Homo sapiens: one gene and its partners. The protein of the gene in region 3 interacts with the protein of the main gene of each other region in a pairwise test. Each region holds a gene or a part of one and is shown on either strand. Other genes may lie near its edges.

Region 1 (7,027 bases), on a different chromosome or scaffold from region 3:
CTGCCTGGGCCAATACTGTTCTAGCCTCTGAATACACAGCCAGGAACAAGAGAGGCAAACAGCCAAATCCCTATTCTCCTGGGGCTCATGTCCTGGCTGGGGAGACAGAAAATAAGCCTGTAAAAATTAATTACTATTATTATTGTTATTATTTTTATTTGTATTATTGTTTACTTAAAGACCAGTGTGATAGTACAGTTAAAAAAAAATTAGAAAGCGATGAGGCCAGTCACAGTGGCTCACACCTATAATCTCAGCTATGGGAGGCCAAGGTGGGAGGTTCTCTGGAGCCCAGGAGTTCAAGACAGGCTGGGCAACATGGTGAAACTCCATCTCTACAAAAAATTTAAAAATTAGCCAGGTTATGGTAACATGCACCTGTGGACCCAGCTACTTGGGAGGCTGAGGTGGGAGGATCGCTTGAGCCTATGAGATCAAGGCTGTAGAGACCCATGATCATGCCATTACACTCCAAACTGGGCAACAGAGTGAGACCCTGTCTCTAAAAAAGAGAGAAATGAGTGTTAGGGGACAGGCCCAGTGGATCATGCCTGTAATCCCAACACTTTGAAAAGCTGAGATGGGAGAACCGCTTGAGGCCAGGAGTTCAAGACCAGCCTCGGCAACATAGTGAGACTCATCTCTACAAAAATTAAAGAATTAGCTGGGCGTCCGCCAGGCATGGTGGCTCACGCCTGTAATCCCAGGACTTTGAGAGGCCAAGGTGGGTGAATCACTTGAGGCCAGGAGTTCGAGACCAGCCTGGCCAACATGGCAAAACCCTGTCTCTATCAAAATTACAAAAATTAGCCGGGCGTGGTGGTGGTGCCTGTAATCCCAGCTACTCGGGAGGCTAAGGCATGAGAATCACTTGAACCTGGGAGGCCGAGGTTGCAGTGAGCCAAGATCGCGCCGCTGCACTCCAGCCTGGGGGAGAAAGTGAGACTCTGTCTTCAAAAAAAAAAAATTAGCCAGGCATGGTGGCATGTGCCTGTAGTCCCAGTGACTTGGGAGGCCAAGTCAGGAGGAACTTGAGTCTAAGAATTCAAGACTACAGTGGAACTATGATTGTACCACTTCACTCCAGCCTGAGTGACAGAGCAAGATCCTGTCTTTAAAAAAAAAAAAAAAAACGGCCAGGCACTGGGGCTCACGCCTGTGATCCCAGCACTTTGGGAGGCCCAGGCAGGCAGATCACATGAGGTCAGGAGTTCGAGACCAGCCCAACCAACATGGCGAAACCCCATCTTACTAAAAATAAAAAAATTAGGGCTGGGCGTGGTGGCTCACGCCTGTAATCCCAGCACTTCCCGAGGCAGGCGGATGACGAGGTCAGGAGTTCGAGACCAGCCTGGCCAACATAGTGAAACCTCATTTCTACTAAAAATACAAAAATTAGTCAGGCTTGGTGGCGGGCGCCTGTAATCCCAGCTACTCGGGAGTCTGTGGCAGGAGAATCACTTAAAACCAGAAGGCAGAGGTGGCAGTAAGCTGAAATCGCACCACTGCATTCCAGCCTGGGTGAAAGAGCAAAACTCCATCTCAAAAAAAAAAAAAAATTAGCCAGGTGTGGCGGCAGGTGACTGTAATCCCAGCTGCTTAGGAGGCTGAGGCATGAGAACCCAGGAGACCAAGATCATGCCATTGTACTCCAGCCTGGGCATGACAGAGCGCGACTCCATCTCAAAAAAAAAAAAAAAAAAAAAAAAAAAAATTAGCCGGGCATGGTGTAATCCCAGCTACTCAGGAGGCTGAGGCAGGAGAATCACTTGAACCTGGGAAGTGGAGGCTGCACTGAGCCGAGATCGTGCCACCGCGTGCCAGCCTGGGCAACAAGAGTGAAACTCCATCTCAAAAAAATAAAAAAGAAGAAGGCTGGGTGTAGTGGCTCACACTCTGGGAGGGTGAGGTAGGAGGATTACTTGAGCCCAGGAGTTCAAGACCAGACTGGGAAACGTAGCAAGACCCCATCTCTACAAGAAAATTAGCTGGGTGTGGTGGCATCTGCCTGTAGTCCTAGCTACCTGGGAGGCTCAGGTGGGAGAATCGCTTGAGCCGAGGAGGTCAAGGCTGCAGTGAGCCATGATCACACTACTGCGCTCTAGTCTGGGTAACAGGGCAAGACTCTGTCTCAAAAAAGAAAAGAAAAATAAGACAGCGTGATGTGAGAGAGTGCCTGGGGTGGGGGTCATTGTAGATGGACTGGCAGGAAGCATTCTCTGAGGAAGGACATCTAAACTGAGACCCAAATGATAAGGAGATGGCATCTGAAGGTCTGCCAGACAGAACAGTCAGTGCCAAGGCACTGAGGTGGGAATGTGCTGGGCAAGTTCAGGCTCAGAAAGCTGGGGGCTGGAGGGCTTCCAGCGATGGGGGATCTGAGAAGTCAGGGAGGGAGGCATCTGATCGGAGCCCCATCTCCCACTCTGAGCCTCCGTCTAAGTGTCCAGAGCTGCTGCTGCAGCCTCCAGGCTGATGTTGCTCCTAGGAGGAGTGGACAGTCCACCCCACTACCCTCCCAGGGTTGCCCTGACCCAGTTGTCCCTGCCCACAGGCATCTGTGGCTTCCTGACCTTTGGAGCTGCTGTGGATCCTGACGTGCTCCTGTCCTATCCCTCGGAGGACATGGCCGTGGCCGTTGCCCGAGCCTTCATCATCCTGAGCGTGCTCACCTCCTACCCTATCCTGCACTTCTGTGGGCGGTGAGCCCCCTTCCACTCCCCAGGGCCCCTCCTAGCCCCTGTGAGCGCTTCCAACATGGTCCTTTGGCCTTGTGTGGACCCCATCCTGTAGAAGGAGAAACTGAAGCCTGTAGAAAAGAGTCGGTGCCTAGGATGGGTCCCTACATATCCCAGGCCAGGTGTCAGAAGCGCCCTTTGTCCTGGGGTCACCAGAACATTCCGTGAGTCCTGTAAGAATCTCTATCCATGGCATGGCACGGTGGCTCACGTCTCTAAACCCAGCACTTTGGGAGGCTGAGGCAGAAGGATCGCTTGAGCCTGGGAGTTCAAGACCACCTGGGCAACCTAGTGAGACCCCATCTCTACACAAAATAAAATAAATAGCCAGGTGTGGTGGGATGCACCTGTGGTCCCAGCTACTCAGCCACTTGGGAGGCTGAGGCAGAAGGATGGCTGGAGCCCAGGAGTTCAAGGCTGCAGTGAGCCAAGATTGCACCACTGCACTCCAGCCTGGGTGAGAGAGCCAGACCCTGTCTCAAAAAAACAAAAAACAAAAGAATCTCTATCCAGATCCTTTCCTGAGCTTTCACATGGACACCCTCCCCTTTGGATGCCCCAGACAGTTCCTTTTAAGGAAAAAACAATATCAGTTTCCATGTGATGTAAAGCAAAGTGCTAAGCTCTCGACATTCACCGTCTCTAGTCCCTGTGGTAAACAGAGTGCTGGTGGCCCATTTTACAGAAGAGGAAACTGAGGGTCAGGAATGGGGCTTTCCCCGCAGTCTACCCAGTTAGGGGTCTGGCTCCTGTGAGCTAGAGGTGGGGAGCTGCTAGCAGCAGGGGCACCTCTAAGCCCTTCTCCATGTGGGCAGGGCGGTGGTGGAAGGCCTGTGGCTGCGCTACCAGGGGGTGCCAGTGGAGGAGGACGTGGGGCGGGAGCGGCGGCGGCGAGTGCTGCAGACGCTGGTCTGGTTCCTGCTCACCCTGCTGCTGGCGCTCTTCATCCCTGACATCGGCAAGGTGATCTCAGTCATTGGAGGCCTGGCCGCCTGCTTCATCTTCGTCTTCCCAGGTGCGGACCCCTGGCGCCCCATCTCACAGCCCCACAGCACAGACTCCCAGGGCCTGCCTAGCCTCAGCTCCCTACTTGCTCAAAACATGCAGGAGAGAGTAACCACCAGCACTAATTGATCACCTGTCTCGCCTCTGTACTAGCCCCTATCCAAGCATTATCTCCTGGAAAGAAGGTATAGTTGTGATCTCCAGTTTACTGATGGCACGTGGGGCTCAGAAAGGGTCACAGACTTGCCTAGAGCTTAACAAACTCAACTAGTAACCTTTTCCATCCCACGCTGTCTGGGTCCAGAGTCTATTCTTTTAACCATTCATTCAGGTGTCTGCTGCTCCTTGACTATGAGGGATCTATCTGGCTGGTTCAGCCCATTACAGCCCAGAGGGCAGTGGGGTCTGGGGTGGCACCCTGACACAGACATCAGGGAACCTGGGTTCCAGACACAGATCTACCGCCAGATCCCTGGAGAACTGTCCTGTCTGCCCAGCCATGAGTTCCACCCTTTTCCAGCTTGTCTCTATCCAGGAAGCCACCCTGAAAGCCCCAGCTGCTTTGCTTGGAGCAGGGGAGCCAGATCTGCTGGGAAGTGTACTAGGAAGACCCCTGGGGTTGGGCCACCACTGAGTCACCATTGAGTGCTGTCCCTTTAGCTGAGTCTAGCATGCTGCCCAAGGGGTCTTGTCAGATGCCAGCCTGTCATGGGAGAGCAGATGCCAGATGACCCCAGCAGGATGTGGTGTGGGGGCAGAGATGGAATTTCTAGAAGAGTAAACATGGGCCTTTCTCCATCCAGCACTGCTTCTTGGGAAAGGAGGTGGCTAGGAGGGAGGGAGCCCTCTCCCCTCACAAATGCTCAGGGCCACTTCTTCTCTTTCAGGGCTGTGCCTCATTCAAGCCAAACTCTCTGAGATGGAAGAGGTCAAACCAGCCAGGTAAAGCAGGACCCAGCCCTTGATCCTCTCAGGGAGGTGCTGGATTGGAATGTGGCTTTGTGGGGGCCTTAAAACAGATAGGAGTCAGAGGCTTGTGTACTTAGAAATCATGGGTTTTTGTTTTGTTTTTTTTTTTTTGAGCCGGAGTCTCGCTGTGTCGCCCAGCCTGGAGTGCAGTGGCACGATCTCAGCTCACTGCAAGCTCCGCCTCCTGGGTTCACACCATTCTCGTGCCTCAGCCTCCCGAGTAGCTAGGACTACAGATGCCTGCCACCACACCCAGCTAATTTTTGTATTTTTAGTAGAGACGAGGTTTCACCATGTTGGCCAGGCCGGTCTCGAACTCCTGACCTTAGGTGATCCTCCTTCCTCGGCCTCCCAAAGTGCTGGCATTACAGGCGTGAGCCACCACACCCAGCCAGGTTGTTGTTGTTTTTTTTTTAATACTTTTAAAAATTCGGTAGTGTGCTAGTTGTTAACAATTTAAACATTAATAAAGGGCTTAATACAAAAAGATGGAAGTCCCTCTTCCCCCACAACCCACTCGCCCCCACATCCTTTCTGAGATAGCTCCATGTTACCAGTATGGTCTGTGTCCTCAACCACTTCTGTACATGTGTGCGTGTCTGTGTACACATAGCTATGGAGATGTATACATAGATGCAGGGCTCTTGTTTTGTTTTATGAAAAGTGGTTTCAGCCAGGTGCATTGGCTCATGCCTGTAATCCCAGCACTTTGGGAGGCCAACATGGGCAGATCACCCGAGGTCAGGAGTTCGAGACCAGCCTGACCAACATGGTGAAACCCCATCTCTACTAAAAATACAAAATTAGCTGGGCATGGTGGCACCTGCCTGTAATCCCAGCTACTTGGGAGACTGAGGCAGGAGAATTGCTTGAACCCAGGAGGCGGAGGTTGCAGTGAGCCGAGATCACACCATTACACTCCAGCCTGGGCAACAAGAGGGAAACTCTGTCTCAAAAAAAAAAAAAAAAAAAAAAAAAAAAAGCCATACAAACATGTCTAAAAAAGAAAAAAAATTGGCCAGGCACAGTGACTCACGCCTGTAATCCCAGCACTTTGGGAGGCCAAGACAGGCAGATCACCTGAGGTCAGGAGTTCGAGACCAGCCTGGCCAACATGGCAAAACCCCGTCTTTACTAAAAATACAAAAATTACCTGGTTGTGGTGGCGCATGCCTGTAGTCCTAGCTCGGGAGGCTGAGGTAGGAGAATTGCTTGAACCCCGGAGGCGGAGGTTGCAGTAAGTGGAGATCGCACCACTGCACTCCAGCCTGGGTGATAGCAAAACTCTGTCTCAAAAAAAGAAAAAGAAGAAGAAGAAAAAAAATCACCCTTTATTTCTTTTTTTTTTGTCTTTTTTTTTTTTTTTTTTTTTGAGATGGAGTTTCACTCGTTGCCCAGGCTGGAGTGCAATGGCGCGATCTCTGCTCACTACAACAACCTCCACCTCCCGGGTTCAAGCGATTCTCCTGCCTCAGCCTCCTGAGTAGCTTGGATTACAGGCGCCCACCACCACACCCAGCTAATTTTTTGGGTTTGTTGTTGTTGTTTTGAGATGGAATCTCGCTCTGTCACCCAGGCTGGAGTGCAGTGGCATGATCTCGGCTCACTGCAACCTCCAGGGTATCTGGGATTACAGGTGCGCAGCACCATGCCTGGCTAATTTTTGTATTTTTGGTAGAGACGGGGTTTCACCATGTTGGCTAGGCTGATCTCGAACTCCTGACCTCAGGTGATCCGCCCACCTTGGCCTCCCAAAGTTCTGGGATTACAGGCGTGAGCCACCATACCCAGCCATTTTTTGTATTTTTTTAGTAGAGACGGGGTTTCACCACGCTGGCCAGGCTGGTCTCAAACTCCTGACCTCAGGTGATCCACCTGCCTTGGCCTCCCAAAGTGCTGGGATTATAGACATGAGCCACCACACCCAGCCTAATTTTTCTATTTTTAGTAGAGATGGGGTTTCGCCATCTTGCCCAGGCTGGTCTTGAACTCCTGACCTCAGGTGATCCATCTGCCTCGGCCTCCCAAAGTGCTGGAATTACAGACATGAGCCACTGCACCCAGCCTAATTTTTCTGTTTTTAGTAGAGATGGGGTTTTGCCATCTTGCCCAGGCTGGTCTCGAACTCCTGACCTCAGGTTGCCCGCCTTGGCCTCCCAAAGTGCTGGGATTACAGGTGTGAGCCACCACACCCGGCCGGAAATCACCCTTTATTTCAATTCCGTTTTATCCCTGTTGCTGTTAATTGGTACATACATTTGCAGATGTCTGCTTTTTGTTTCCTTTTTTTAATGAAATAGACCACATTCCATGTG
Region 2 (7,027 bases), on a different chromosome or scaffold from region 3:
CTACCAATATAAGGTGTCTTGTGAGGTACTCAGGGTCCTATTTGCCCTACAGAAGGGGAATCGCATATTCTTCCAAAGGCCAAGGGGACAAGCTCTTGTCTTTGTCTCCCATCCCCCATGCTTCATTCATGTAGAGTTTGGGCATTCACCGCAGAGAGAGACTCATCACCATTAGCTTCATTGTCTTTGAATGCGAGGAGCAGAAATATCTCTAATGGGAGACACTGATCAAACTTATGGACCATTTTGATGTCAGCTGAGCATGCTGGGCTGATGATAAGCAGGATGGAAGCTGGGGGAGTCCACAGCTTTGGGACAGAGATGTTCAATAGAAACCGATGGAATGGCTGACAGCAGGGCTCATAATTACTTGTCTGTCTTTCAAGTGAACTTCAGGACTAAAAGTTGTTAGCTAGTGGTTCCTAATTGACTGTCTAGAGATTGCTTGATGATATCCACTGTTTTCTGAGTTGGCAGAATTTTTCAGAGAACTCTGAGAATGGCCCAACCCTGTTTGTGCAGCTAATTAAACTCCCCTTGTTAAAATGCAATGCAAGATTTTTTTTTTGCTAGACTGTTATTATAATAAGCTATTTCTTCAAAAGTCCTTGATATGTCGGTCTTTTCTGTAAAAGCCTTGGCATGCTTGAGTTGGAGTCTTTCTATCTTTGGAGAAATGAGTAAAGCTGGTTTCAAGGGAAGCTGGCCTCTCTGATAGGTTCCTGGTGTATCTTACCGAGTCTTTATTCATCTCTGGCAAAGACCCTTCCCCTATTCAAACCCTGCTGTCCACCCCTATGTTCGACATAAATCTGCTTGTTTCTCCTCCCTACTCCTGAACTGTTTCCCACGTAGGGATGTGATTGGAAAAGAAAATTGAGACCAAGGTAATAAATTTTGACTAAACACATAAAAAATATGATTGGATACACACACATATTTTTTTTTTCTGCTCATCTTGAAACTTAAATTAAATTAAAAACAACTTAGATGCAAAAGCCTTGATTGGCCCCGAGGCCAGTGATAAAATAAGTCTTCATTATAGAAGCATCTAGACCCAGCTTGATCAGGCATTATGGAGGTTGGTGGCCATTAAATGCACAGGACCCATTACACCACCTGCAGCTGGCTGACCTGAACTTTGAGAGACATGGCCAGAGTCACTTCTGGCTCTGAAGACCATTGCTGTCTCCTTAGAGGTTTCATAAAAAGTCCCTTCAGGCTGATGTTCCACAGGTGAGCTTTGGGTTGGCTTTCAGATGAGATCATTAAAAGGCACAGCAAATTGGCTGCCAAGGGTTACTCTGTAAGGCAATAGTAGTAATAAAAAAATGTTAATTGTGCTGGGATCCTCTTGGGGAAGTTCAAAGGGGACAAAAGAAAAACAGGATCTTTCAAAAGTGTCATTTAAAAATATGCGGTGGCACTGAAGTGTGAGTCTGAATATCTTAAATGAACATAAAATATTTTAAAATGACTTTTTCTGCAAATGGTAAGCTGGAAAAAAACTTTTATTAAAAAAAATTGCACAAAACCTTCAAGCTCATACGCTATTCACTTTCTAACAAATGGCTGGTTCCCATTTTGAAGGATGTTAATTTGCAATTTCCCAGGCGATGAGAGGATATGAATTTGCATCATATATTTTCACTGTAGCCCACATCTTTGGTGATTCCCTCATTCTGATGAAAAGGAATTGGATTGGGTTGGGGTGAAGGTGAGGAAGAGAAAATGAGCAGTAGAAGGAAAGAGAATGTGACATTTTCAGATCACCTACTCTGTGCCAGGGACTTGGCTCACATTACTTCGTTAATACTGAGGACAACCCTGTGAAGTAGGTTATCTCTATTTTACAGATGAAGGAACTAAGAATTAAGGAGATTTCACATCTAGCAAGTGCTAGAATTGAAATTCAAACTTAGCACTCTCATAGCTTCTTTATTTCCCTTTCCTTGCATAGAGATAGGAATAATCTCCTTTAAGACTCCAGAATGGCCGGGCGCGGTGGCTCACGCCTGTAATCCCAGCACTTTGGGAGGCCGAGGTGGGTGGATCACGAGGTCAGGAGATCGAGACCACCCTGGCTAACACGGTGAAACTCCGTCTCTACTGAAAATACAAAAAATTAGCCAGGCGTGGTGGCGGGCTGTAGTCCCAGCTACTTGGGAGGCTGAGGCAGGAGCATAGAGTAAACCCGGGAGCCGGAGCTTGCAGTGAGCCGAGATCGCGCCACTGCACTCCAGCCTGGGCGACAGAGTGAGACTCCGTCTCAAAAAAAAAAAAAAAAAAAAAAAAAGCCTCGAGAATGGGGAATCTTCCTTTAGGTAAAGTCTGCTGGCGTAGTGGTTTTCGTACAACCAGTGGCGATGTGGCTAAACGCTGGGTGGTCCCCACCTGTGAAAACAAAGCTGTTTTAGCTTGTTTCTATGATTCTATTCATTTATGTATTGGACTCCACTTACTTGCCTGTAAGTACTCTCGACAAGCCAATTTCTGTCACTCCAGTTGCCAAAAGCTCAGATTCCAGCTTGTTATTGATGTTCAACTTGTTATTATTTGCAGTTGTTTTCCAATTTCACCGGCTCCGTGGATGACCGTGGGACCTGCCAGTGCTCTGTTTCCCTGCCAGACACCACCTTTCCCGTGGACAGAGTGGAACGCTTGGAATTCACAGCTCATGTTCTTTCTCAGAAGTTTGAGAAAGAACTTTCCAAAGTAAGCATTTTCTTTTCAAACAATATCTTGATAAAGAGAAACAAAACAAAATGTGTTTTAATTTAGGATTTTATAAGCAATCATTCTTCACTATCAAAGACATCACGTTTTTATTCTATGGTGATTTTAGTATTTATTTTATAGGACACCAATGGAGTTCTTATTAAGGCAGGGAAAATGAGAGCACAGGAAGAAAGTGGGGTTCAAATTGTTCACGCCGTGGATAAACTCACTATAGTATTGTGGTACTTAGGCAGTTGGAAAGAAGCCTTGAGCTCTCCTTGCAAACCCCAACCTGCAATTTTTATTTTGTTTTGACGCTGCTTCTTCCTTTTGGTCTTCTAGGTCTTTCCTCAAGCTTTGCTTTCTTTTCTTTCTTCTCCTCTATCCCCTTTAGTTCTATTCTATCTCCCTTCTCTTTTTCCTTTTCTTCTATTTCTATTCCATTCCTGCATCCTTTAGTTTCTTATTTCTCTTGCCTCAATCCTTGCCCTTATTCATCCCTTCTAATCTCTCTTTTCCTTTCCTGGTTAATTCTTTTTTGGGGGGGACATTTTTGGGTATTTTCTTACTTTTAGATGATCTTTTTTTCCCTCCTTCTTTTCCCTTCCTCCACTTCCACTCCTTCAAATCCTCTCCCTCTCATCCTCCTCCCTCCCTCTCTCTTTCCTTTAACCCTTTTTTATCTTTACAAATTGCTCACTTCCTTCTCTCTCCCCCTCACTCTCTTTTTTTGTGACAATAAGTTGTAGTCTCTTTTATTTTTTTCTATTTTCTCCAAGTGAAATCCAAGGTTGTAGTCTCTTTATTTTTAATCTTATTTTTTTTTGGTGTATAGTAGGTGTATGTATTAATGGGGTACATGAGATACCCTGAGACAGGCATGCAATGCGTAATAATCACATCATGGAAAATGGAGTGTCCATCCCCTCAAGCATTTATCTTTTGTGTTACAAACCATCCAATTAGACTCTTTTACTTATTTTAAAATGTACAATGAAATTATTATGGACTATAGTCACCCTGTTGTGCTGTTGAATACTAGGTCTTATTTATTCTTTCTAACTACTTTTATTTTTTACCCTTTAACTATCCCCACTTCCATCCTCACCCTCCATCTCTTTCTTGATGGTTATCTTCTATTGTCTCAGCAGGAACATTACATTTGATGTGTCCAATATTAGACAAAAATTGAAGGCTTCCCTGGGAATTTGAATCAAGACTAATAGGTTTCTCAGCCTTGGTAAAAACACTGACTTGAACTCTGATTACTGTTTTTTTCTTTAGCCAGAGGAAGTTATCTTAAAGGGTTTGCCTTTCTCTGGGCTGGCTGGAGCAATGTGACTTGGTGTTCTAGTTTTGACTCCTTCCACCTTTTCAGCCCAAGTTAAAAATCAATTAGAAAAGTTCCTATTTTCTGCACAGGTGAAGTCCAAGCTAGTCTATAATCACATTATGCATTATTTAATACAACTCCATTAATTTACAAGGAGCTCTGGCTTTACTGCAAGATTCAGAATAAGTTTTCCTAAGAAATTTGAGCTTTGCCACCTCAACATCCAACATAGTTATCCTTTAAAACAAAAATTATGATGAGGCTGAGACCCTACTTTCAGCCTGAATTGGTAGATAAATATTCTAAGTTTAAATGAGTGTCCAGGAAAATGTGTTTGACTACTCTAGAAACCTAGCTGCTTAAGAAATATAATGTCCTTGAATTAATCAGTGGAAAAGGCACAGCATTAAATTATAAATTCTAACCATTAATATTCATAGCCTTATTCCAGCATAATCAAGTACAGATAAGAAGTTATGCATAAAAACATAACAAGTAGAGGAAAATCCTAGGTAAAGATCTTTTCAGTTAGAGTCATTTGCTTTGAAATAGTGGAAACTACTGATTTACATGTTGTCTTTGCTGGCAGCAGTGTGAAAGGCAGTTTGAAACCTTATGTGCTCCAGGGAGAGTATGTGGCTTGCCAGGTTTGTGAATATGGGACATTTAATTCCAATACTGTACGGGGGGCTGGTAACATCTGCTTTGCTAATGACAGATAGGGAAGAAGTGCAGAATAGGTGGGAAAGTTTTAGTTCTGAATGTGTCGGTGGCTGCTCTGATCCCAAAAAAACTGTGATTGTGGCCTAAGAAAAAAGTTTATCTGCTAGCTAGGATTTATATAATCGATTTAGTGTGACAGGTGATAATAACAACAATAATAGTAGCAGTTTGTTTGTGCTTTTTCAAATGCTTCCAGTTCTATTCTCTCCTCTCAAGTAACCCTTTAAGGCAGATAGGCCAGGTGTTGTCTCTCCCATTTTAGAGACAGTAAAACTGCAGTTCATAAAGGTAAGGAGACTTGCCCAAGGTCATTCCTCTCTTGGCTGGTTAAGCCAGGTCAGAATTCGAGTCTTCAAAATCATCTCAACTCTCTTTCCTCTTGGCCATGCTGTTAGCATCCTCCAAGGTAGGCCCAGGAAGAGATGCAGTAGTAATGCCTTCAAATCCAAAGTTATCCCTTTAGCTGAGGGCTTTCGAATTTCCAAGTGAGTTATTACAGCTGTCCCTAGGTTGCCTTGAAAATTGTCATTTATCCGGGGGCCTGGGAGAATGCCCGTTTAGGACAGGCCAGTAGAAAAGGTTTTTGACTGCCTTACATTGATTCATTGTCTGTCAGTACACAGAGAAGACAGGGAGCTGCCTCTGCATAAGATGCTGAAAGCATTTTATACTTTTCTGTTGTTTACGGTATGTCCTTTTGTGACTATACTTAGGAAAGGGATGGCACAAAAGGCAGCTCAGGATTTTCTCTTTCTCTGGAGGCTTATGGTCTTTGGCATGAGTTATTTAATATGACACATTTGCTAGTAGATCCTCATGCACGGGAAGGTTGAGGCAGCCTAGGAGACATTAAGGCAACCCATAAAGAAATAACATTGATTGAGCCGTATTTGTATAGTGAAATATAATAAATTAAAAGGTCAGATTGGAAAATGCTGAAATTACTGTTTCTCTATTAATTTCTATAATTCATAGGGCCTCCATTAACTAGGCACTTAACGTACATTATCTCTAGTCTTTATGATAATCTTGTAAGCTCAGTATCATTACCCCCAGTTTACAGGAAACTAAGGGTTAAAGAAATTAAGTGATTTGCCCACTAAGTACTGAAGTTAGATTTGAGTCTAGTTGGGTCTAGCTCCAAAGTACTTTATATGTCTTTACAATCACTCCAGGCTCAATGAACCCTGTTACGTTTACTTTGAAACATATATTGAAAATAGTAGTATGTTGCAAAGTAAACGTACTTATTTCAAATAGTCTGGCCATAGTTATAATCACAGGTTTTGAGAGACTGGCAGAAACATGAACCAGATTAATTCTTTAGCTTGCTAGCACTACACCCTTATTTATTACAAGACCACATTAATTATAAGGAACAATAACAGGCACCCTCAAATCAACGCTCACACAAATTTTATTCCTCATCAATGATATAGTATGTGCATAACAAGCAAAATAAAATGGAAGCTGTGAATGTTAGGCTGGTGGCTTAAAGGCTCAACTAAAACATAGATGAGCCATCTAGTGCTCAGACTTGTCATGATGAGGAGCTTCGAGATAAAGATGTTGACACAGGACGTGTCTCCTCAAGGCTAGACCCATATTCTTGATAGAATGTTTAGCAGCGTCCCTGGTCTTTAGATGCCAATAGCACTCGCCCACCCCCCAGTTATGAGAACCAGGACAAAATCACCACCACTACCGCCCTCCCTCCATTTAGAACCACTTTTCTAGATCAAAATACAGCCATAGGTCAGCTAAAGACAGGGACATGTTCTGATAAATGCATCGTTAGGTGATTTTAACATTGGTGAACGTCATTGTATACTTACACAAACCTAGAGGGTGTAGCCAACTACACACTCAGGCTATATGATATAGCCTATTGCCAGGCTACAAACCTGTACAGCCTGTGACTGTACTGAATAATGTAGGCAATTATAATACAATGGTAAGTTTTTGTGTGTGCATATATATCTAAACATAGAAAAGGTACAGTAAAAATATGATATTTATAATCTCATGGGACCACTGTCATATATGCAGTCTGTCATAGACAAAAATGTTATGCAGCAAATGACTGTATTTTCCAGAAGAAGAAAAAAATGCAGAAAGTGCCCCAAGTGCCAGATGTGGGACTGGAGGCTCCCAGGCAGGCTGGGCTGCCTCTCCCAAGACTGCACCTCCCAGGAGGAGCTGACATGTGGTCAGCATTGTCCACGCATTCCCAAAGCTACAGATTCATATATG
Region 3 (7,027 bases):
TCTGCAATATCAGTGTCCCAAGGGCAGAAGCCAAATGCATCTTGTTCACCGTTTGTGGAAGGCAGGAGAATGCTGTCCCACCCCAAAATGTCCCTGTCCTAGCCTCCATAGCTTGTGAATATGTTATTTTACATGGAAAGGAGGAATGAAGATTGTAGATGGAATTGCGGTTGCTAATCAGCTGAACTTAAAACAAGGGTATCCTGGATGATTTCCAGGAGATTATGAGGGATTTTCATCTTGGTGAACCCAATAGAATCCCCAAGTTTTCAAAAGATAAGGAAGAAGGGAGAGCAGCATTCAGAGAAAGAGGTGTGGTAAGGAAGAAGGCACTGAGTGATGCCATGTGAGATGTGACCAGTCTTTGTGGGCTTTGAGGAAGGAGGAAGGGGAACAGGAGCCAAGGAACTGGGAGCCTTTAGAAGCTGGGATAAGTGAGAAGCAGATTCTTGCCTGGAATCCTCAGAGGGAAGGCAGCCTTGCTGTCACCTTGATTTTAGCCCAGTAAGATGCACTTCCTACTTTGAGCTACAGCACTGTAAGATAATTAAAAAACCGTTTTGTTTTCACCCACGAATCTTGTGGAAATTTGTTATGGCAACAATAGGAAAAGGTTCCGCACTGCACAGCCTGAGCATGGGGCCGTGGCTGAATGAGTCAGTGAGTCGAAGTGTGCGTGCATGAGCTCCGTTCTCTGTTACGGCAAGGCTGTTGCTCTGCTGAGTCAGCCAGGGTTGCTTCATGACCAACAGTAATTCATTCCTTGGCAAGTGGAACTTCTCTAAAACACCTCGCCCTCATCAGATGTTCCCTTCCCTTCCCTCTCTCAAGCCCCCAGGAATTTATCCTCCAGTTAGGAATGCAGGCAGAACAAACATTGCATTTTTCCTGAGAAGGATGTCAGATTGGCAATCATTCTTCTAGCTTGTAGGAGGTCTCAGCTCCATAAAATGAGAGATTAAGAGATTTCACTGAGCCCTAGGTTGGGCCCAGATCCCTTTCGCTGTTGGAGTATCTGGAGTTCGGAGATGGTAGAAGACAGGCGTACAATGTCAGAGCTGCGAGATGCTGAGTCAATGCCTGCATCGAAGGTTTCTACCTCCCCAGGTTTCCAAAAGCGGATATAAGAGGGTTCTGTACTCACCGGTTTCGGAGCTTGGTTCAGTGGGTGAAGGCCAACTATTTGAAGGGTTTCCTAGAACACGAGACAGGAGAGAGGTGAGGAAATGAGGGTGTCTGTCCTCTACTCAATGGAAATCTTTGAGGTTGGTTCATGGCCAACACTCTGTTATCTAATATTGGGCCCTGGGAGTCCTGGGATCCTTTTTTCCGTAATTTTTGTATGTGACGCCCACTGTCTTGAGACTTCAAGGTATAAAGAGAAAACAGGAGCATCACACTACCTGATCTCAAAATATGTTACAGAGCTGTAGTAAGCAAAACAGCATCACATTGGCATAAAGAAAGGCACGTAGAACAATGGAGCAGAATGAAGAACACAGATATAATCCATGCATTTACCTCCAATGTTTTTTTCTTTTTTCTTTTGAGATGGAGTCTCGCTCTGTCACCCAGGCTGGAGTGCAGAGGTGCAATCTCGGTTCACTGCCACCACAGCCTCCTGGGTTCAATCAATTCTCTGGCCTCAAACTCCTGAGTAGTGGTATTACAGGTGCTGACCACCATGCTCAGCTAATTTTTATATTTTTAGTGGAGACAATGTTTCATCACGTCGGCCAGACTAATCTTGAACTCCTGGCCTCAGGTGATCCACCCGCCTTGGGCTCCCAAAGTGCTGAAATTGCAGGTGTCAGCCACCATGCCCAGCCCATCCAATGGACTTTGACAAAGGTGCCAAGAACTCACAATCAGGAAAGGACAGTCTTTTCAATAAACAGTGCAGGGAAACCTGGACATCTACATGCAGAGGAATGAAACTGCACCTCTACCTGTCACTATACACAAAACTCAAATGAAAATGGATTAAAGATGTGAGTCTAAGGCCTGAACCTATGAAACACGTAGAAGAAAATATTGGGGAAATGCTCCAGGACATTTGTCTGAAGGAAGACATTTTGTTTTAAACCTTCAAAACACAAGTAATCGAAGCAAAAATAGACCATTGGGATTACCTCAAACTAAGCAACTTCTGCACCGCTAAAAATAAACCAACAAAGTGAAGAGACAACCCACAGATTGGGAGCAAATATGTGCAAACTATGCATCTGAGATGGGATTAATAACTAGAAATATAAGAAGCTCAAACAACTCAATAAAACAAACGATTTAATTGAAAAAGGAGCAAAACACATGAAATTTCCCCACATACTAAAAAGTGCTCAGTTTCACTCATCATCAGAGAAACACAAATTAAAATCAAAGTGAGTTTTCATCTCACCCCATTAAAATGGATTTTAGGCCGGGCGTGGTGGCTCACGTCTGTCATCCTAGACCTTTGAGAGCCTGAGGTGGGTGAACCTCATAAGGTCGGGAGTTTGAGACCAGTCTGACCCACATGAAGAAACACTGTCTCTACTAAAAATACAAAATTTAGTTGGGCGTGGTGGCGTGTGCCTGTAATTCCAGCTACTCGGGAGGCTGAGGCAGGAGAATCGCTTGAACCTGGGAGGTGGAGGTTGTGGTGAGCCGAGATCGCACCACTGCACTCCAGCCTGGGTGACAAGAGCGAAACTCCATCTCAAAATAAAATGAAATAAAATAAAATGGCTTTTAGCTGCAAGACAGGCAAAGGAAATCCTGCCAAAGTGGTAGAGAAAGGAGAACCCTAATACCCTGTTGGTAGGAGTGTAAATTAGTACAGCCTTTACGGAGAAAAGTGTGGAAGTCCTTTAAAGAACTAAAAAGAGGTTGGGTGAGGTGGATCATGCCTGTAATCCCGGCACTTTGGGAGACCGAGGCGGGCACCTCAGTTGAGGTCATGAGTTTGAGAGCAGCCCAGCCAACATGGGGAAACCCCATCTATACTAAAAAAAACAAAAAGTAGCCAGGCATGGTGGCGTGCACCTGTAATCCCAGCTACTAGGGAGGCTGAGGCAGGAAAATCATTTGAACCCAGGAGGCGGAGGTTGCAATGAGCCAAGATGACTTCACTTGTACTCCAGCCTGGGCACAGAGGGAAACTGTCTCAAAAACAAAAACAAAACAACAAACGAATAACTAAAAAGAGAACTTTCATAGTATCCAGCAATTTCACTACTGGGTTTATATCCAAAGGAAAGTAAATCAATATATCGAAGTGATATCTGCACTCGTATGATTGGTGCAGCACTGTTCACAGTAGCCAAGATGTGGAGTCAACCTACCTGCCCATCAGTGGATGAATGGATAGAGAGAATGTAGTACATACGCACAGTGGAGACTACTCATCCATAGAAAGAATAACATCCTGATATTTGCAGCCACATGGATGGAACTGGAAGTCATTACAAAGATTCCCATTTCTCACCCATATACAGAGCTAAAAGGTGGATCTCATGAAGGTAGAGAGTAGAATGGTGGCTTCCAGAGGCCAGGAATAAAAGGGTGGAGGGTAAAAAAAAAAAAAAAAAAAAAAATATATATATATATATATATATATATATATATATGTTTATATATGTGTGTGTGTGTGTATATATATATATATATATATATATATAAATGTATTTATGACCACTAGACTTTACACTTAAAAATGGTAAATGTGGCTGGGCGTGGTGGCTCATGCCTGTAATCCCAGCACTTTGGGAGGCAGATGCGGGTGGATCACGTGGTCAGGAGTTGGAGACCAGCTCGACCAACATGGTGAAACCCCCTCTCTACTAAAAATACAAAAAGTAGCCTGGCGTGGTGGTGCGCGCCTGTAGCACCAGCTACTCAGGTGGCTGAAGCAGGAGAATCACTTGAACCCAGGAGGCGGAAGTTGCAGTGAGCTGAGATTGTGCCACTGCACTCCAGCATAGGGGACAGAGCTAGACTCTGCCTCAAAAAAAAAAAAAATGTTAAAGGTGGTAAGCTATATAGGTATATTTATCCTCAATAAATATTTCTTCAAACAAAAGTAAAGGGTGTAGGGGTTGCTGGTGATGACATCCCTGTGTGGGTGAGAGGCCAGGATGGGCTTCTGGGAAATGGGTAATGTTGAGGGGCTGAGGGAACCTCTGATCTTCCCAAACTGAGCCCAGTCTCTCTCCTCTGGGTCTCTCCTGACCGTTTTCTCCATCTGCCTGTGTGCCTGGAGCCCTGGCCGCGGGCCTTCATGCAGGCCGTGTAGGAGGGTTTGGAGGTGCCCTGTCTGCCATCCTGTGCCCTGATCCCTCCCTCACACCCAAGCTTCGTCTTCTCTCTGCATCTGTCCATGCTTCTCTCCATCATCAGCAGGAAGCTCCTCAGCTAAGGCTCTAGGATCATAGGACATGAGACAGATATGGGGTTTCCTCACCTGTGACAGAAACAAGCAGTGGGTCACTCGAGTTTGACCACTCGTATGGAGAGTCACGGAAAGAGCCGAAGCATCTGTAGGTTCCTCCGTGGGTGGCAGGGCCCAGAGGAAAGTCGGCCTGGAATGTTCCGTTGACCTTGGGCCCTGCAGAGAACCTACGTTCATGGGCCTCCCCCTCCCTGGATAGATGGTACATGTCATAGGAGCTCCGGGAGCTGCAGGACAAGGTCACGCTCTCTCCTGCCAGAACCGTGGGGCCCGGCTGGGCTGAGAGAGAAGGTTTCTCATATAGACCTGGAGGAGAAGAGGCATTTTCCTTACGGAGGATCTTCCTTGTCACAGCTCCCTTCACCTGAGCTGAGAACTCACTCCCCTGCTCTATGACCTAATGCTCTCTCTCTCTCTCTCTCTCACCCTCCACCCCATCTCTCTTCATGTCTATTTCCTTCTTCCACCTTCTCTGTCTCTCTAGGTCTCTGACCTCGCTTCCCCACCTCTAGATATGTTTTCCCTTTTTGGATTCTTTTATTCTCTCTGACTCTCCTTGGATTGGTTGACTTGATGTTACTTTTTTAAATTCTAAGTTTCTCACGTTGTGTCCTGTTCATAACTTTCTGCATATTTCTATCTATTATCTGTCGATCTATCTATTTATCTATTCGGTGCCTATCTACAAATTCTCTACCTGTCATCTATATCTATATATCATCTATGTATCTATCACTTGTCTATCTATCCATCAATCATCTGTTATTTATATGTATGTATCATCTCTCTCTCTATGATTTCTGTCTGCCTCTCTATCTGTACGTATTATCTGTCTTCATCATCATCATCTCTATGTATTATCTATTAATGAATCAATCAATCATCATCTATGTATCTTTAACCTATTATCTATCATCTACCTATTTATCATCTATCTATATCTATCCATCTATCATCTGTCTTGCTCTGCCTCTCGGTCTCTCTAGTTCTCTTTGGAATCTCTGCAATTCATCCCCACATCTCCATGTTTCTATGTCCTTGTGCCTCTCTCTCAGGACTCTAATTTTAGTGCTTTTCTCTGCTCCCTGCCATCATTCTCACCACTCCTCTGCCCTCTTTTCTCTCTCTTTATGTGTCTGTGAGTCTCTCAATCTCCTTCCTCTGGCTCATTCTCTGTGTGTTTATGTCTTTGCTTTTTGGTGTTCCTGATTTTTCTCTGTGCCTCTCAGTGATCCTTTCATATGTGGGGTTATTTGGAATGTGAGCCACAGAATCCAGTCTGGAGACCACAAGTTCACACAGCATACAGGGGTTGGTGTTCTGGGGCCATGATATCCTGGGACGATTACTCTCCATTACATGGAAGGCAGAGGTGTCAGAATAAACATGGCCTGTAGGTGCCACAAGGCCTGAGGCCACAGGGCCCAACTCAGGTCATAAATATGGGTGTCCTTGGGTTCTCCTGGTAGAGAACACTTTGTGGAGGTAAAACAGAAATGAAACTTCTAACCTGTGCCAGGTCTGTGAGCAAAGTCAGCATGGAGGGACACCTCTCTCTGGGACATGTCTGTCTGTCTGTCTCTTTTAACTCTTTCTGTCTTTTCTAACTCCCTGTATGGCCCCTGTGTCTGTCCTCTGTTATGACACCTGGTCTGTACTTGTGTCTCCTGTTTCTCTGTCTCTGTTGGTACAAACCTCAGCAAGTCAGTCTCTCTCCATAAGAATACCAAGCTCATCTTCCTTACAACTACCTGGGGGTTCCAAGTCGTGGATCATTCACTCTGCATCCCAATGACAATGAGAATGTCCGGACACTCTCACCTGTGATGACGATGTCCAGAGGGTCACTGGGAGCTGACAACTGATAGGGGGAGTGAGTAACAGAACCGTAGCATCTGTAGGTCCCTGCAAGGTCTTGCATCATGGGACCGATGGAGAAGTTGGCCTTGGAGACCCCATCATGGTGCTCTCCAATGAGGTGCAAAGTGTCCTTAAACTTCCCTTCTCTGTGCAGAAGGAAGTGCTGAAACCTGACATCTGACCAACATTGCAGGATGACTGTCTCTTCTGATTTCACCAGGGGACCTGGGTGGGCCAGGAGGGAAGGTTTTCTGTGGACTCCTAGGAAGAGAGGTTGTGAGTTTAGAAGGTGTCTCTCTTTATCATCCCATCCATGGCACCTAGAATGAGTGAGGCTTCCCCTTGCTGGTGTCTGTCTCTCTCCTTCCTCTCTGTGTCTTCATGTTCTTTTCTGTGCCCTTAACTCCTGGTGCAGGTCCTTCCATCTGTCTCCCTCCCTCTTCTCTGTCCCTCTGTCTCTAGTAGCCTCTGATTCCCTTCCCACTGGGCTGAGCCTCATCTCTTGGGGTGTTGTATCTATTTCACACTAATGTATTTCCTGCTGTTTATGTGGGGGTGAAAGAGGAACCAGGATAGGCTGCACATCCAGGCTCTTATCAGCCTGGTTCAATCTCTTTTGGATGAATTGCAATCCTTGGCAGAAGGTATGAACTGATGAATAAGGCAGGCACCAGTGTCCACACACCCTGTTCCTGGTGGGGACTGGGAGCCACTCTTGCCATGCCTGTGCCTTCTCCA

The links.
Region 1: the proteins of KIR2DL3 (region 3) and SLC38A7 interact in binary tests that used the Homo sapiens proteins (3 or more experiments, as listed by UniProt).
Region 2: the proteins of KIR2DL3 (region 3) and OLFM4 interact in binary tests that used the Homo sapiens proteins (3 or more experiments, as listed by UniProt).

Annotation. Positions count from the first base shown.
Region 1 is NC_000016.10:58,667,771-58,674,797, reverse strand, and holds part of SLC38A7 (sodium-coupled neutral amino acid transporter 7), read left to right. Parts: intron 1-2,554; coding exon 2,555-2,702; intron 2,703-3,553; coding exon 3,554-3,753; exon of another isoform or gene 3,754-3,928; intron 3,929-4,630; coding exon 4,631-4,685; intron 4,686-7,027. UniProt on the Homo sapiens protein: Symporter that selectively cotransports sodium ions and amino acids, such as L-glutamine and L-asparagine from the lysosome into the cytoplasm and may participates in mTORC1 activation. The transport activity requires an acidic lysosomal lumen.
Region 2 is NC_000013.11:53,031,786-53,038,812, forward strand, and holds part of OLFM4 (olfactomedin-4 precursor), read left to right. Parts: intron 1-2,562; coding exon 2,563-2,715; intron 2,716-7,027. UniProt on the Homo sapiens protein: May promote proliferation of pancreatic cancer cells by favoring the transition from the S to G2/M phase. In myeloid leukemic cell lines, inhibits cell growth and induces cell differentiation and apoptosis.
Region 3 is NC_000019.10:54,741,503-54,748,529, reverse strand, and holds part of KIR2DL3 (killer cell immunoglobulin-like receptor 2DL3 precursor), read right to left. Parts: intron 6,551-7,027; coding exon 6,251-6,550; intron 4,736-6,250; coding exon 4,442-4,735; intron 1,196-4,441; coding exon 1,145-1,195; intron 1-1,144. UniProt on the Homo sapiens protein: Receptor on natural killer (NK) cells for HLA-C alleles (HLA-Cw1, HLA-Cw3 and HLA-Cw7). Inhibits the activity of NK cells thus preventing cell lysis.